Homo sapiens: one gene and its partners. The protein of the gene in region 5 purifies or fractionates together with the protein of the main gene of each other region. This does not show direct contact. Each region holds a gene or a part of one and is shown on either strand. Other genes may lie near its edges. The genes, in order: LTF, PLCD1, DSG4, HEPHL1 and DHRS12.

Evidence for each region.
Region 1: the proteins of DHRS12 (region 5) and LTF purify together in Homo sapiens (affinity purification with mass spectrometry; one large-scale study listed by BioGRID and IntAct). This does not show direct contact.
Region 2: the proteins of DHRS12 (region 5) and PLCD1 purify together in Homo sapiens (affinity purification with mass spectrometry; one large-scale study listed by BioGRID and IntAct). This does not show direct contact.
Region 3: the proteins of DHRS12 (region 5) and DSG4 purify together in Homo sapiens (affinity purification with mass spectrometry; one large-scale study listed by BioGRID and IntAct). This does not show direct contact.
Region 4: the proteins of DHRS12 (region 5) and HEPHL1 purify together in Homo sapiens (affinity purification with mass spectrometry; one large-scale study listed by BioGRID and IntAct). This does not show direct contact.

What each region holds. Positions count from the first base shown.
Region 1 is NC_000003.12:46,438,021-46,440,921, forward strand, and holds part of LTF (lactotransferrin isoform 1 preproprotein), read right to left. Parts: intron 1,461-2,901; coding exon 1,276-1,460; intron 110-1,275; coding exon 1-109. UniProt on the Homo sapiens protein: Transferrins are iron binding transport proteins which can bind two Fe(3+) ions in association with the binding of an anion, usually bicarbonate. Lactoferricin binds to the bacterial surface and is crucial for the bactericidal functions.
Region 2 is NC_000003.12:38,009,811-38,012,654, forward strand, and holds part of PLCD1 (1-phosphatidylinositol 4,5-bisphosphate phosphodiesterase delta-1), read right to left. Parts: intron 1,864-2,844; coding exon 1,734-1,863; intron 1,636-1,733; coding exon 1,404-1,635; intron 753-1,403; coding exon 551-752; intron 466-550; coding exon 321-465; exon of another isoform or gene 244-320; coding exon 94-243; intron 2-93; coding exon 1-1. UniProt on the Homo sapiens protein: The production of the second messenger molecules diacylglycerol (DAG) and inositol 1,4,5-trisphosphate (IP3) is mediated by activated phosphatidylinositol-specific phospholipase C enzymes. Essential for trophoblast and placental development.
Region 3 is NC_000018.10:31,407,773-31,411,293, reverse strand, and holds part of DSG4 (desmoglein-4 isoform 2 preproprotein), read right to left. Parts: intron 1,843-3,521; coding exon 1,703-1,842; intron 1,550-1,702; coding exon 1,486-1,549; intron 185-1,485; coding exon of another isoform or gene 64-184; coding exon 1-63.
Region 4 is NC_000011.10:94,027,853-94,031,373, reverse strand, and holds part of HEPHL1 (ferroxidase HEPHL1 precursor), read right to left. Parts: intron 1-3,521. UniProt on the Homo sapiens protein: Is a copper-binding glycoprotein with ferroxidase activity. It oxidizes Fe(2+) to Fe(3+) without releasing radical oxygen species. May be involved in the regulation of intracellular iron content.
Region 5 is NC_000013.11:51,797,651-51,801,171, forward strand, and holds part of DHRS12 (dehydrogenase/reductase SDR family member 12), read right to left. Parts: intron 2,018-3,521; coding exon of another isoform or gene 2,010-2,017; coding exon 1,884-2,009; intron 259-1,883; coding exon of another isoform or gene 176-258; intron 1-175. UniProt on the Homo sapiens protein: Putative oxidoreductase.

The DNA of each region.
Region 1 (2,901 bases), on a different chromosome or scaffold from region 5:
GGAGTCTGGCCAGACACTCAGTGTTGTCATTGAACAGAAGGTTTTTGGTTTCAGACTGGAATAAGCAAAACTTGTCCGGGCAGTCAGATCCATTTCTCCCAAATTTAGCCTGCGACAAAAGGGCAGACAGTGAGTAGCTAAGGAAAAGAGGAATTTATGGGTTAAAGGAGGCAAAGGGGTATTTCTTCCACCCAAGAACAGCCCTGAGAAAACCATGGGGCAGAAGGAGCTGAGTTCTGGAGTCATTCCACCTCCTTAGTGGAGTCCCCCACCCCACACTCCTGGTGGCAGGCCCGCCTTGGGCAGCATCCAGGCCTCGCACCACTTCTGGTCCTACCTCCTACCATCTGCCATCTTTCCTTCCTTCTTAACCTGTGACCTTTTCCCATACAACTTCTTATGGGTGACAAGGCAACAATGGAGGGGTTTTGAGATCTGCCCTCACAAGTCAATTGCTCAGGACATTCTAATATGCAGCTCTTCTAGAGAGGCAGGCTGCTAGGAAAACCCAGGCTCAGCCACTAACCAGCTCAGTGTGCAGGTCGGTCACCCTGCCTCCCTCACACAGTTCCTGCTCTGTCCCAGGCTCCCATGTGGGGAGACTGAGACCCAAACCCCTCAGTCACGGCAGCTCTCTCACCAGCACCACTGTGTGTGCACATTAAGAGCTCCATAAAGGCCAGTTATGGTGGCCAGTCTTGTTATTCCTGAGTTGTTTTCTTCAAAAGCACACAGAGACATGATGTTATATGATAAAAATAGAAGTTCTAATAAAATCCCAGATTTTAAGAAAATTTTGGGATTTCGTTCAAATCACATTTAGAGAGCCCTAAATCTATAGGGCACCTTCTGAGTTTGCTGTTTTAGAGGCCTGGCCTAGAGCACTGTTCACTCGGCCCAGGTTCAGGAAATGTCACCTGAGTAAAAAGCACTATACTAATGCATGTGGGAGGAAGGCTCAGTGGCTTCCTCATTTGCCAGAAGAACAGCAGGAGGGAAAAAGACAGCCTCTGAGCCAGGCAGTGATGGCAACAAGGCCAGGGCACAGAGTCTCAGCAGAAATGGAGTGAGTCCCAGAAAGCCCAGAGTCAAAAGCCTCTGTTGTTCTTGTTGACACTCTGGGCAACGCCACAGCATGAAGCCAATACTCTCACCATGAGCTTCAAGTAGAGGACTAGAGAGGATCGAGTGGGCTGGTGCACCTAGCTCTGTGATCTCCTCACCTAACATGAGCCCACACAGCTAAGAAAGCACTAGAAGCCCTGTGGTCCATACCTGTTGGTGGAGCAACACCTGTTTCAGGCGTTCCACCTTATCCATCCGAGACACCACGGCATGATTCGGGGCCATGGCAAGATGGCAGCTTCTAGCCTCAGTCACAGGCTTCCGTTTGCCATCGAGGCACAGCAGCGCAAAGTCTGCCAGCTTCAAATCCTTAGCCCATGCCTCATTGTTATTTCCTGGGGAGAAAAAGAAGGTGGCATCATCCACGCCTCCCCTGCTTAGCCAAGAAGTCTCTTCTGGGTGGGTGTGGCCATTCCACTGACCTCCCAAATGCACACACTGGGGTTGTGGTGATGTGAGGAACAGAGAAGGAGCTTCATCCTACACAAGCTGTACAAACTTCAAATATACCAAATATTAGTGCTGTGTCCATGCAATGGAATGTTATTCAGCAATAAAAGGGAGTGAAGTTCTGGTACATCCTGCAATATGCATGAACCTCGAAAACGATGCTAAGTGAAAGAAGCCAGTCACAAAAGACCACACAATAGGCTGGGCACGGTGGCTCATGCCTGTAATCCCAGCCCTTTGGAGGCCAAGGTGGGAGAATCACTTGAAGCTAGGAGTTCATGACCAGCTTGGGCAACATAGCAAGACCTCATCTCAAAAAAAAAAACCCACCACATATTATATGACTCCATTTATATGAAATGTCCAGAATAGGCCAACCTATGGAGACAGAAAGTGGATTGATGGTTGCCAATGCTGAAGAAGGATAGGGCAATGACTGATAATAGGTGCAAGGGTTTCTTTATGGGAGGATACAAGCGTTCTAGAGTTGGATTGTGTTGATGGCTGCACAACTCTGTGAATGTGCTGGAGATCACTGAATTGTACACTTTGCATGGGTGGATTTTTTAGTATATGAATTCTACCTCAATAAAGCTGTTTAGAGTTCTTATTTTTTTAAAGAAGAAAACCCTCCACCTATGCCATATTTTTCAGTGAGTTCCAGAAAAAGAATAGATGGTTTACATTCAAGGAGAAATTGGTTTCTCCTCCCTTTCATATTCAAATGCTATTAGTGTAACCAGAGAAAGGAAAGGAACTTTTATAGGTTTATCAAATATATACAGCCAATTCTAACAAAATACAGTTGTAAAGTACCGGAGAAAGTTAAAATTAAATTTGACATCAATCTGATCCCTGGAGATTACTTCAGTTAATGGCTTGTAAATTCTAAATGTAATTGTATGCATGTCTATGTTTGTGCAGATGCCGGCTCATTGTTCCGGCTCCCGTTTGTCTCTCTGCTCTCTCCCTTTAAGAAAGCACTTTATTCATTCTCTTGGATTCCTCTATTTGATATTGAAATAATTTCAAATTTACATGTCTTGTTTTAATCTCTGTCCCAAGAGACACTAGAAGGAGCAGAAGCAGAAGGGAGAAGTGGCTGAGACTGCAGTGATTACTGAAGGAGGGAGGCCGAAAGTGGAGACAGTTCTTTCTCAGGAAACAGAATAGCAAGTCACCTGCTGAGACTTGGGGGTTGGAATGCTGAAGTGGGGCTAAGGAGACAGATGCAGATTGGAAGGTAGCAAATGGCTGAGGACCAGGAGAGAGAGTGATTGTTCAAACATTGGCTGGAAGATTATCTTCCATCATCTGCAACCACCT
Region 2 (2,844 bases), on a different chromosome or scaffold from region 5:
GCTAGGTGGGGAGGGGCAACTGGTCAAGACACACCTAGCGCCCCGGCTAGGCTCCCCACCCTCCCCCAGGGATCCCCCATCCCCACCACACACCTCAGGGGAGGGCAGGCTGTTGGTGACCCCATCCAGTGGTCGGTTCAACAGCATGGGGCCCAGGATGGCATGCAGGTGCCGCGCCATCACGCGCTGCTGCTCCAGTGTGCAGTGGTTCTCCAGGGATAGGATGACAGGGTAGGGGGACGCCTGGAGGCCCAAGGGCACATTAGGAGTGGTGGGCCACCCCTAGCATCCCACTCCTCACCTGCCAGGGGCACTCCCACCTTGAAGGCATAGTCCCGGATGGCCCTGAGCACATCGCAGAAGAGGATCTTGGAAGTGAAAGTATAGCCGTGGTAGATGATTGGTTCCTGGTTGGGCCCGTCCCAGCAGTCAAGCTCCAGGCATCGGCAGCCTTTGCACAGTGCCCTGCGGGGAGGGTGGTGGCTAGGACCCTCCAGGTCCTGTCCCGGGTCCCACCCAGACTCCCGACCCAAGGCTCCCTGAGCAGCACCGGATGTAGGCTTCAGTGCTGCTGGGCCCGGCTAGCTGGTCCTCCAGCAGGTAGGTGTTGTGTGAAGAGGACACCAGGTAGTGGCTAAGTGGCTGGCCCATGTCCTGGTAGACACGGCGGTGTGCCAGGCTGAAGGCGCTGCCGTCAGCCGACAGTAAGTACATGAGGAAGCCGTCCTTGGTCATCTGCCGCTGCGCCTTGGCTGGGAGGGAGGAGGCCACTGCCCGTCAGAGCCAGCCTCCAGCAGGCGCTCCTGGCTGCCCACCCATCTGGACAGAGGAGCCCTCTGAACCCGCTTGCCTGCCTGTCCTGAGCCAGTCTTCCAGAGCTCTTGGAATTAGGATAAGTCTGAGGCTCTCGACCAGACTGTGGCTACTCCAGAGTGGGGCCCTGTCTCCTCCTCCTCCCCTGTCTGCACACTCTAAGACCCCTGAGGACAGGGTGTCATCTCCCCGTTCTCTGTACCTCCAGACTGGAGCCCCCTCCAGGGCAGGGACCCATCTTCTCTGCTCTATCACATCTCAAAGCTGGGCCAAGAATGAGTAAAAAAAAAAGAAGCAGGAGTAGCATCTGCTTTTCAGCCATCTCTCTTGTTTCTTGAAGAAGGGGTCCTCAAAGCCCCCTGAAGGAGGTGCCAAGAGGGAAACAGGACCAGAGAAGGGTAGGGATGCCAGAGCCCTGTCTCTCATCTGCCGGCTTTCATAGGACCAGAAAGTGTGGAGCAGGGCCCCGGGGCTGGCTGAGGCAGCCCCTTCCCTCCGGTTCCCTTCTTTCTGGCTGCAGTCTCCCCAGGGGTCTCCCAGCCCAGTGCGGCCCTGCGACTGCAGGTAGCAGGCCCTGGTCAGGCTCTCACCAGTCTCGCTGGGCTCGTAGCGCTCAATGAGGGAGAGGGCCAGCGCAGGCCCTGCCGCCTCCTCCCGCTGCTGGTGCTGCAGGAACGTCACTAACTGATCCACCGACAGAGTCTCCCCTGAGCCCGCGGCCTCGGCGAAGGTGCGGTCGATCTCCACCCGCTGGGTCAGCATCTTGTAGAAGGCCTCAATCTCCTCGTCCTCCAGGGAGTCTGTCTGGGAGTGGTCACACTCCTGCAGAGCCAGGACAGCCGAGTGGGCTCAGAGCAGGCCTTGGGCCGGGGTCAAGGGCCCCATGGACAGGCAGCCCCAGCCCCCACTTCCTGCCTCACCCTGAAGATCTTCCGGGCATAGCTGTCGTCCACCTGGATGTTGAGCTCCTTCAGGAAGTTCTGCAGCTCCTTGAAGCTCATCTTGTTGTCCTTGTTTTTGTCAGCTTTTCGCAAGCAGGAGTGAATCCAGCTGGGCAAGAAGTAAGGAAAGAACCCAGGAACCCTGGAACCTACCAAGGTCCCAGCCAGAGCCATGGATGGCTCCAGCTGAAGCCACCTATAGCCACAGCTCCCTGCAGGCCTGACTTACTACACATCCATGTTTCAGTGGCCTCTTCAGAGGAAAATGTTAAGGGGTCTTTTTCTATTTGCTGGTTTTCAAACCTTTCAAAATTTTTAAAACATTTCTTTTCTTACTACAAAAGGGCCCACTGTAGACAATTTAGAAAATGCAGAAAAGTAAACAATCAAACAAATCTCCCGTAGTCTATCACCTAGGGATAAATACTATCAACATTCCAAAGTATATCCTTCTGGTTTTCCTTTTCTTTTTTTTTTTTTTTTGACAAGATCTCACTCTGTCGCCCAGATTAGAGTGCAGTGGCACAATCACAGCTCATTGCAGCCTAGACCTCTCAGGCTCAAGTGATCCTCCCACTACAGGTGTGCACCGCACCACCACGCCTGGCTTTTTTTTTTTTTTTTGGGTAGAGACAGGGTCTCCCTATGTTGCCCAGGCTAGTCTCAAACTCCTAGGCCCAAGCAATCCTCCTGCTTTGACCTCCCAAAGTGCTGGGATTACAGATATGAGCCATCTGGACTGGTTTTCAACATATAATATATAATAATAAATATCCAACACTAAAGAAATGGATATTCCACCTGCTGAATAGCCTTCAGCACACGAATCTCGTGCTTGGCTGGACCATTCTAAACTTGACTTTTTTCACCTGGCTTTCTGTCATAATTATTCTTTTCCACATCTATACCCATATATATACAATTTGGAAAACATATATATGTTAGAATGAAGTTTTTTTTTTTTTTTTTGGAGACGGAGTCTTGCTCTGTTGCCCAGGCTAGAGTACACTGGCGCGATCTCGGCTCACTGCAACCTCTGCCCTCTGGATTCAAGCAATTCTCCTGCCCTAGCCTCCTGAGGAGCTGGGAT
Region 3 (3,521 bases), on a different chromosome or scaffold from region 5:
GCTCCACTCCCGATACACCTCCTTCCACCGTGCCCCCGGCTGCATAGGTGTTGGTGTAGATTTCTGAAAAGGGAGGATGTTGGTTTAACAGCGCTGGAGTTGCCTGCAGCGCGCATCTGCCTAAAACGCTGCCGCCGCCGTCTGCGGTGCCACCACCACCCGGCAAGGCGTAGGCGCTAAAAAGCTGACAAAGAGAGATACAAGTTACACCGATACATCTCCAGGCTTGTTGACCAAATAAAAGTAAATTAATTACACAGAGGGAGTCAGTGGTGGGACGTGGCCTTCCCACATTTGCACAGACTTCGCCCTAGACTTAAAGGTGTAGAACTAGCCAAGAGAACTACAAGCAGGCGCCCGTTCCCGCCGTGGCTGCTGCGGGCTTGATCCAGCCGGGAGCCCTCCAAAGCAAGGCCAGCGGCGTGATTGCAGAAACTGAGCTCATAGTCCTCCTTCACTCCGGAACAGGATGGAGCTGGGCTCACAGGGATGTTCAGTCACGGAGTTTCTTTGCATACAAAGGGCCAAGCTTGGGATACTAAGGAACCATCAGAGAAAGCTCACGTGCACTGCAGAATTAAGCACCCTCTCTGTTTGGTGCAATCATTGCCATATAGCTAAGTAGTGTGTTCAGTATTGTTAGATATGCGTGGGGCTGGTAAGATAGGAGAGTTTACGACACTCTTTTGAGGCAAAAGCTTGTCTGAAGTTAAGAAAAGTTATTCAGTGTATTATTAGAGTACATTTACTGCCTTTTCTTTAGCTCTTTAAAAAAAAACAGCTTGTATTATAAATAATTACTACAGTGCCAGGCACTACTCTAACGTATATTTTGTGATATATGTATATATACACACTTATATATGTGTGTGTGTATATATATAGACACACATACACATGTATGTTATATATAATAAAATAATCTATACAATATATGTATGTATTATATATTACATATGTAATATGTATTATTTACTCCTCACAGCAACACTTTAAAGTAGGTACTATCATAAGCTCAATTTTAAAGATAAGGAAACTGAGGCCCAGTGAGGTTAAATGTCTTGACTAAGGACTTATTACTACAGGTTGAGCATCCCAAATCCAATAATCAAGAATCCAAAATGCTCCTAAGTCTGAAACTTTTTGATCATCATGGTACAAAAAGTTTGAGCCAAACTCAAACTCATGGTCCTATGCATTTCGGATAAAAGATATGCAACCCTTAAGCAAGTGGCAGAGCTGGGAATCAAACCCAAGCATTCTGCTTCCAGAGTTTGCTCTTTTAACTGCTGTGTCATACTTCACTGTCTGTAGTTTCAGATAGAAAAAAAAAGTGGCTACTTCAAACAGGTCACATTCCCTCTAATTATACTGTCACCCAAAGAGACTGACAGACTTTTCCATAAGGTACTTTTACATGAAGTTGGTCTGGTTGAATAATTTTGAAAAATTTAAAAGGAAAAACAGATTTTGGTGTCTACTGACCAGAGGAATCCATCCGATCCTGGGTATTTGAGGCTGTCATGGGTGCACATATATTTGACACATCCTGAAAAGAAAAATAAACATTTTAAAAACAAACGCTTTATGTTAAACATTTAAAAACTGACATCTGTTCATTTTTGTGCAGCATGTAATTGTTAAGACATGCTCAATTTCCACTGAAACTCCACACTTCTCTGGAGAGTGACAGTCCACTTACCCTGTCCTCGGGATGGGCCCCTTCAATTCTCCAAGACTGCATCACTCCTTCTCCGCCCTCAGGCACAGGAGCAAATCTTGTTCCCAGGCCTTCTGGCTGTCTCTGTTTGCAGCAACACAGGAGCAGCAAGAGTGGAGCCACTGCCCAAGAAAGTGACAATGTCGAGTTAACACACATTGCTCGGTTTAGGAAGTCACTGGATGAATCATTCTGGGGAGCATTTGGTGGCAGTATATTTAGAACAAAAATACAAATATATGTAAGAAAATCTCATTTTTTTCCTTTAGGGGATTGAGTATACATATCCAAGTTTATAAATACAGCACCACCAAATCACATAGAACTTTAGCGCTAGATGGCAAGGAGTTTGCGATCAGGTAATTGAATTTCTTTGCTGACAGATTAGGAAAGTAAGGTCGTCTTTAGTCTAAGACTCTTGAACTGGTTGGGGCAGATGCACACATACATGTAAGTTAAACGCATCATGAATATATGTTATCAAGAGGATTGAATACAGGATTCAGCTATAGGACCTGGAGATAGGACCTATCTTCAATCCTTATTACAGTTACACTTAAAATAGAAGTCAAATAATACTCACTAAATTTAATGGAGATATTTACAATTATTTTAAGACTTTGTTTATAGACTATAATGAAAAATTAAAGCTATCAAAAATGTTTAGCTATCCAAGTGTTTCTTAAGAGGAAATTTCCTATTTGTTACCCTAATAATCACCTCAATTCTGTATTTTAATCCATAAATATAGACACTGCTTAAGTTTTCTAAGATTCTAGAATACACTCTGTTTAGTTCTTTGGGCCCACTCTGGTTGCTTTTCATACTTTCCTAATTCTCTAGCATGGCATGCATTTTACTAAGTGGGTTAATTAAAGATAAAGAATAGAAGGATAAATGCTTGAGGGGATGGATGCCCCATTCTCCAGGATGTGATTATTTCACATTGCATGCCTGTATCAAAGCAGCTAATGTACCCCATAAATATGTACACCTATTATGTACCCACAAAAATTAAAAATTAAAAACAGATACAAAAGAAGAGACTATCAAAGTTGCAAAATCAGCTTTAGTCTTATTACAACAATTAATTTGGCAATTTTGCCATCTGCACTATGAACAGTGAAAGGTCAAGTTATACATTTCCATAGCATTTTCTGGAAAAGGACTAAAACTAAAATTGGTAGCCCCTAGGCCATGGTTCTGCCTATTCTATATTTCTGTGAATTTAAATGTGAGCTGGATCATGTACCATTGCAGGCCTGAACTCTAACAAAGGCACTATCTAATAAATGAAATGAAGTGTTTTTAGCACATACCCAATACAATTACTGTATGTGTAATCTCATTTGGAGCTAACATCAAAAGTGTCAATTTGAGGCCCTTTGGGAACATAGGTTTGGGCTCAGATCCCTCCCACTACCATCACACTGCCCCCTCTCTCCTAAAATAGACCATGGGCTTCTCCATTGAAAACAAGTGTCCATAGGGGTATTCCTCTCCTATTCTACAATCCATCAGTTGAACAACTCTCATGCTTTCTTTGTCTGGGTCAGGAAAAAGTCTTGAAATTCTTAGTGCTAACGTTCTGGAAATGCAGCTGGCACTGGGTTTTTAGCCCTGAACTGCACATTAGTCTCACCAAAGGGCTTGAACATGCTGATGCTTGGTCTCATCTTGAGTATGACTCTAGTATGAGTAATTTTGGAAGACCTTTAACTAATTCTTATGTACAACTAGGGTTGAGAACCGCTAACTCAAAGCTTACCCGAAACCACTACTCAATTGCTGTAGAGTTATA
Region 4 (3,521 bases), on a different chromosome or scaffold from region 5:
ATTTGTGTGTGTGTGTGTGTGTGTGTGTGTGTGTGTGTGTGTAACAATGCACATTTACCCATATGCAAAGAATACATCTGGAAAGTGACCAGGGAAACAAAGTGTAGCCTCCAGACTATGAGACTGAAGCCACAGGTGGGAGGGAGGACGGAGGAGAAGTTTACTTTCACTCATCCTCTTTTATACTGTTGTAGGGGGAGGGGCGGTTACTCTGTACCTACAAATTCAATACTAAAAACAAGCTCACGTTTTATTGAAAAAAAAAGAAGACCCATGCTGTTTGGCCTCCAAGGGGCCAAAATTCTCTTGCATGCCTTCTATTTCTAAAAACAAAGCTGCCACAACAAAGGGTGTTGTTGGATTGAGTTCTGCTCTGCAAGGGGATTGGCCTCTGGAGCAGAGAGCATGGCATCTGCTCACTATCCCTGCTCAACCTCTGGCTTGCCAACTCTCCTCTCAGGCATTGAGGCTGAAGTCTTGGGACTGTGTATGAACATTCTGGGTCTCTTGTATCCAAGCATCCACTAAGCCTGCATGTGTCTACCCAGGAGCAAGAGTTAGCCCTCTCCCACTCTATAAGGCAAAGACTTACATTTCCCTGTGCAAGAGAATGGGATATAAAAGTTGGGATGCCTGACCCCTGGACCTTTATAATAGAGGCTGTTACATTTCTCAGACTTGCTTGCAACTTGGAATAGTCATGTGACATAATTCTAGCCAATCAGATGTAAGCAGAAGTCACTCAATGATACTTCTCCAGGTGTAGCTGGAAGACACCATTTTTCTCCTCTTCTCTTCCCTTTATTCATGCCTGAAATGTAGACATGATGACTGGAGCTCCAGCAGCCATCTTGAGATAACGAGGAAGAGGGTCACACCCTAGGAATGGTCAAGTGAGAGCCAAAAGGAACCTGGGACCCAGATGATTGCCAACCTCTGGCTCTCTTTTATGTAAGCAATAATAATAAATCTTTAATCGATTTAAACCACTTCTGTTTTTCAGGATTCTGTTAAAGAGTAGCTGAATACAACTCCTGATTGAACAGGCTGTGCAAAAGGAGAAGGAAGAGGAAGAGGCAGAGGAAGAACTGAGTCATCCCCAAGCTTGCTAATAAGCCTCAGAGTTGCCCAGTTTTATAGCTGACAATGGGTCACCCAGTAAGGTGGCACAGCAAGGATTAGATTCAGAATCCCTGGTATGCTCTCTGGGTTCAGCCTGATGGGTAAAAACTATAATACAAAACTATTATTCATAGGACCTTATCATTCCAACAGGCCCTATAGGGAAGGATGGACATTGGACTCTACTTCTCTACCCTGTTCTCCCACTGCACACATGAAGACACAAAAGTATACACACATGCAGATGCATGTGGAGCACACATGCTCACATCTTCACATATGTACTCCTGCTTTTAATCTGCTAAGAGGTCCTGACCCCACCTCTGCCCAAGACCTTTCTCCATCACCTCCACAAGACCAGGTCTTACCATGAGTTGTCTGGCAAAGGCACTAAATAAGAGGCAAAATAAGTATCAGGAGGGGCAGTGAAGTGTTTGCTGAGTCCCTGTAGGGACTGGAGCACTTATGGTATGCTTCATATTTTGGCACTGAGTTATACATTGACTGTTTTTCATATTCCTGGACACATATCAGTCTTATCACCTATACAGCCAATAGTCACCCCAAGGGGGGATTGGGTTTTCTAAAGCAGTGGTTCCCAAATGTCCACCCATGTACCACTTGCATCAGAATCATTTGGAACATTTGCCAAATTTTTATTCTCAGGCCCCACTTCAGGGCAATGGAATCAGACTTTCTACTGGCAAGACCATGGTATCTGTATTTTTTCCTAAGATCACCAAATGATTCCTGTAGTAGAGCTTTTTAGGGCTTGCGTATTCTAATTTTTCTTTCCTCCTAACCAAAGAAGACCACAGTGATTCTGCTTTTGCAAGTTAGATGGGCCATAGTGTTCTGGCAAATTGGCTGTGAGTGGAAATGCCACGTGTCACTTCTGGGTGGGGGCATTTAATTATTATTGCAAGACCCTCTCTTCCTCTGCTGCAGGAGGAGCCTCCTGCTCAGACAGTGAAGAGAACCCATAGCTTCCTCCTTGTCCCAGGACTTCTTCCCCTGCACTGACTCCACATCAAGAGTAGGACAGGGTTGACCCATGAAGGTGCCCTAGGAAGATACTTCACACAAAACAAAAACTATAGTAACTATTTGATAAAAATTTGTTGAGGCTGGGTGTGGTGGCTCATGCCTAATCCCAGCATTTTGGGAGGCCAAGGTGGGAGGATCACTTGAGGCTAGGAGTTTAAGACTAGCCTGGGCAATACAGTGAGATCCTATACTTTTTTAACTAATAGGAAAAAAAGCTTGAAAGTAAAAAAAGAAGTGGGAAGGGATAGAAATAAGAGAAAGTAGTTTGTTTTAGTGTCTACACAGCAAACCACCCATTGAGAACATATTATGCATTTGTAATAGTAGAACAGAAACTCCAGCTCCTTTGAGTTCTATAAAATGCAAATTTGCCCAAGAAACAAAGTAAGGAAGTAACTTCAAGGGAGCCATCCCCATGAAGCAACCTCCAATTTAAATGGAGTATATTTGTTAGAATGTTGCATTGGTGAGCCATCTGTTGTTTATCACGTAGCCATGGCGAGGGGCTGAGCAATCACTATTCCTCAAGAACATTTTCAATCTGCATTCTAACATCTTGACTCAAGCTAAGGAGGTGTCTACTTCCTGCTGCAAAAGAATCCAGTGGGGCCAGGAAGGTTAACATTAACAACTGCCTTAAAGACAAGATGGGGACTTGGAACATTACATTGCCAGTGCCTGGGGCCAATCCTGTGGATGGAGATATCTTCCAAAAGCAGAGGAGATTAATCATTATCAGAACAAACCTGCCCTTGGGAATCCCCTACACAGTACAGAGTTGGACTTCCAGGTTAGATTCTCAGGAGTTCGTAGCTTGCAGGGATATAAACCACCCAGCAATCCCATGACCTCTGCATCTTTTAGAGGGATGTTTTCTGATAGCTTCCTTGGAGCAATTGCTGATCATCTACTATGTCTGGGACATAAAACTAGAAACTGGGGCCAAGATGTATTAATCTCAGTCCCTGCATGCAAGAGTTTTACCATCTAGTTGGGAAGCAAAACATGCATTTGACAGTAAACACAGTTTTACAATGTTAACTGCCAACTCTACTGTCCAGAGCCCACATGTCTGTGTAGAGGGCAGGGAAATATAAGATGAAGATAAACTGCAAAATAATGTTAGCAGAGAGTGTGGTCAGATCCAACATGTGAGATCATAAGAGTCACAATAAGGACAAGAAATATTGTTTGAGCTTGAGAAGGAACGTTCTTCACCAAGGAGAAAAAAAGATGAGATTGAGACAAATGTCACTTGGAAAAAGGAAGGGTGGAGACGGAGATTGCACATTCAGTTTGGTGAAGCTGCACCCTCCCTATTAGATTAATAATTTTTAATACCATCTGGATGT
Region 5 (3,521 bases):
TCAAACCTAGCCATTCAAAAGCAGGGCCCAGCTCCCTGCTGGCCGAGGCTGCTTCCAAAGCAGAAGCACAAACACAGGCCCTCTTCAACCCAGGGAAAGCGGGTAGGAGTCCAGCCTCCTCACAGCTGACCATGGAGGCAAGGAAACCCAGCAGGAGGGGTGAGGAGCTGCTCACCTGGTTACCGCTCTCCCGGATGATCTCACCCCTGGCATCTTCTGCTGGGGCTTGATCTCGACAAACCAGGTGAACTGTGCCACCTGGTGGAATTCAATGAAACCATCTGTGAGTTACAGCGAGAGCTACAGAAACCAGCTCTTCCTAATGAAAAATGAAGACATATGGGCTCACAGTTGACACTCTTCTGTTAAGCCTAGATGGGTGGTTCCCAGAGTTAAGAGCAGCAAGGGCGATGGTGAGGGAGGTGCTGGAACCTTATTGCCTACCTGTGCTGACAGTGCGTCTGGAATAACATCCTGATTTTTTGAGGGCCTGAACACATCAAGGATAAGAAACATTGATCTGGGTCACATATGCCTCCCTAGCATCTAGCATAGTAGCTGACCCAGATGTGTTAAACCTGGCTGCACTTTAGACTCATGTAGGGAGCTTTTAAAGATCTAGGCGATAGGCCCAGGACTGGGTATGTTTTACAAGCTCCCCTGGTGATGTAATGTTCAGCCAAAGTAGACAGCCACTTGCCTAGCATGTAGTAGAGACTCAAGTATTGACTGAATGTTGAGTCCATCAGCAGCCCTCATATTATCCCAGCAAATGCCACACCATCATCAATCAAGGTCAATTTAAAGCAGAATGCCTTCGCCGTGGCAGCTAAGAACGAATCGTTATGGAGTCTGCTTTCTTTACTAAAAATCACCCACTTGATTAAATGGGGTGTTTCATGGGAGGCTACAGGCTAACCACAACACTAGCCCCTCTTCTCTCCTCCTCTCCGCACTTCAGAGTGCTTCCCAGCTGCTAAGATGCAATTAATCCTCTCCCTGACTTGGCAGATAATTAAATAAAGCTTCAAATGATATAATAGTCCCCTGAAAAATGCCTAACTTGGATTTAGAGAGAGGAAAAAAGAAAACATCTTCAGCATCTTAAAAAGTGATAAATTCACAACCTAGTTCCCCACCTTCTGCTGGAACATCCATTTTTCCTGAAGAGGCTCTGGAGAGATGCAGCAAACTTTTCTAGCCACTGCAGAGCCATTTGGTGACCCAGGATCGTTGAGCTCATGCAGGAAATTCTGGCATTTACCATGAGGAAGACTTCTGCTGACTGAAGACTTTACAGTGCACCTGAAGCACCTCTTTATAGTCAAGCTTAGGGGAGGGAAGCGGGAGGCTGCTCTAGCCCTGGAGGCTGGACCCCAGCAAGGAGGAAGTTTAGTTCAATGCACTCCTCTCTCCAGGTATTTTGGGGGCCTTGGTTCATAACTACCATCCACATCCAAATTGCAGTGGACTTTGAGGCTCCCCCTCCCCTTGTCTCTCACCCCAGGAGAGTCTCATTGAGAAGACATGAGTTAGAGACCAGGTGTTCATGTTTTTGTTTTTGTTTTTTTAATTAAATTCCACTGGGGATTCTGATGTCCAGGGTTTGCTTGAGCCCCTCGCTGTTCTTAATCAGAAAACACTGGGACACGTGGGCAGGACCCCAAGCTCGCCTGAGAATTAATTAAGTGTTGAGGAAAGGGCTCCTGTTGCTCTAGCCACCTGGAGCTCAAAACTCAGAAAGCTGGCAGCTGTGCCCAGAACCATGGGATCGCCGTCCAGGACTTCCTGGCCTGCCTGTGACACAGGGTGCCCTCCTCAGTGTGGACCGGCCGCAGTCTGGCCGTGGGGCTCAGTGGACACACGTGTTAGCAGCTGCTTACCTCGCTTGGCGATTTCAAGGGCAGTTGCTTTGCCAATGCCGCTGTTTCCTCCAGTGACCAAAAAGACTCTTCCAGGAATCTGGACCTCCAAGTCATGAGGGACAAAGTCTTTACATGCAGATTCATAGCCACTCCTAGAAAGAGGAGACCCACAGGAAGACCAGCTGTAAGGAGTGGGGAACACAAACCCCTGCAGGAGAAAGCCTAATTCTAGGATGGGCATTATTGCTGTCTCCGCCTCTCCCAACACATCACGAAACTCCTTTCTCCCTTGCCCTCCCTGCTCTCACAAACACCACTATCTCGGGGCCTGCATTTCCTGGACCATGATCTTTCCAAACTTTTGAAAATATTGGAGATTCCAACATTTTGGCATCCAAATTGTCTTCCTCTGACTGCCCCGATCCTGGGGAGTGGCAAAAAGAAAAAAAATCCCTTGACAGATGAATTGCTCTTTTCCCTTTTGTGGGGGGCAGGTTTCAGGAAGCTTAGGAGACCATTTGCATTGTGCTTATTGCATTGCAGGACAGATATCCTTGCCTACTTGGAGAAACGGGGGAGATTTGCAAGTAGGGAATAAAGGAGGAGGATGGTAGAGTTATTTAAGCTCTGCACCCATCAGAGGAAGCCAAGGCTCCTTCAGGGACACAAGGTGTGCACTGCACAGCTCTAGGGAGTGCCATTCGGATCAGAATGATGGGATATTTGTATCTGCATTATGATAATGTTCTGGCAGGTGGCAGAAAAGCATATTGCAGAAGAGGTATTTTTTCTGATTTGCACAAAGGCATCATATTGGATAGATGCAATTGTGAGTTCTTTAACTGTTTCTTTTTCCCATTCCTTTTGCGATACCTCTCTACCTTTACTCTTCTAGTATTTCCTGGCTATGAAATTGGCTAAGGGCAGTGGTGGCAGAATGGTGGGGTTGGCAGGTGGAGGCCCAGAGGGCAGACTCTGCCCACGCACAGGCAGGCTGGGGTCTCAGAGCTTACATCTCTCACCTACGGAGCCGAGAGATTTCTCCTGGGCAATGCAGGATGGGACTCTGATCTCAAGGCTCCACAGATGCTGAGAGCCCTCCCACAGGACCTGTTTACAAAAGGGTAGCCAACAGCTGGCCTCCTGCCCCATGCCCTGGTACAGCACAACTGCCAGTTACATGCTCTGGAACTCGGGGAAGTGGCCAAAGGATGTTTATGAGCTTGGGTTTGGTTTGAAAGTCATTGCCACGGGGCAGGCATTGCCACTTGTTTCAGTCAAGCCAGATGTTCTTAAGAGAACAAGAAAAATGTTCCTGTTTTCACCATCTGTAACTCACCAGAACATGCAGGGCAGCTTAGAGAACACCCTACCCATTGCTTCTGCTGTGAGTGGCAAGCAAGACTTCTTATTCCAAAGCCTTCCCAAAAAGGTTGACTTGAAACTTAAAAATATCAGTAACAAGGGCTTGAACAACCTGGGTTTAAGTCACAGCTCAGCCTCTTACTAGCTGTGCCATCTTGTGTGTTGATTTAACCTTTCTGAGCTCTTATCTCCTCATCTGCAGAAAGGGAATAATAAGAGATACCTCTTGGGCAGCCTAAATGAGATGCCGCATCTAAGGCACTTATGACAGCACTTGGAACATATTAGGAG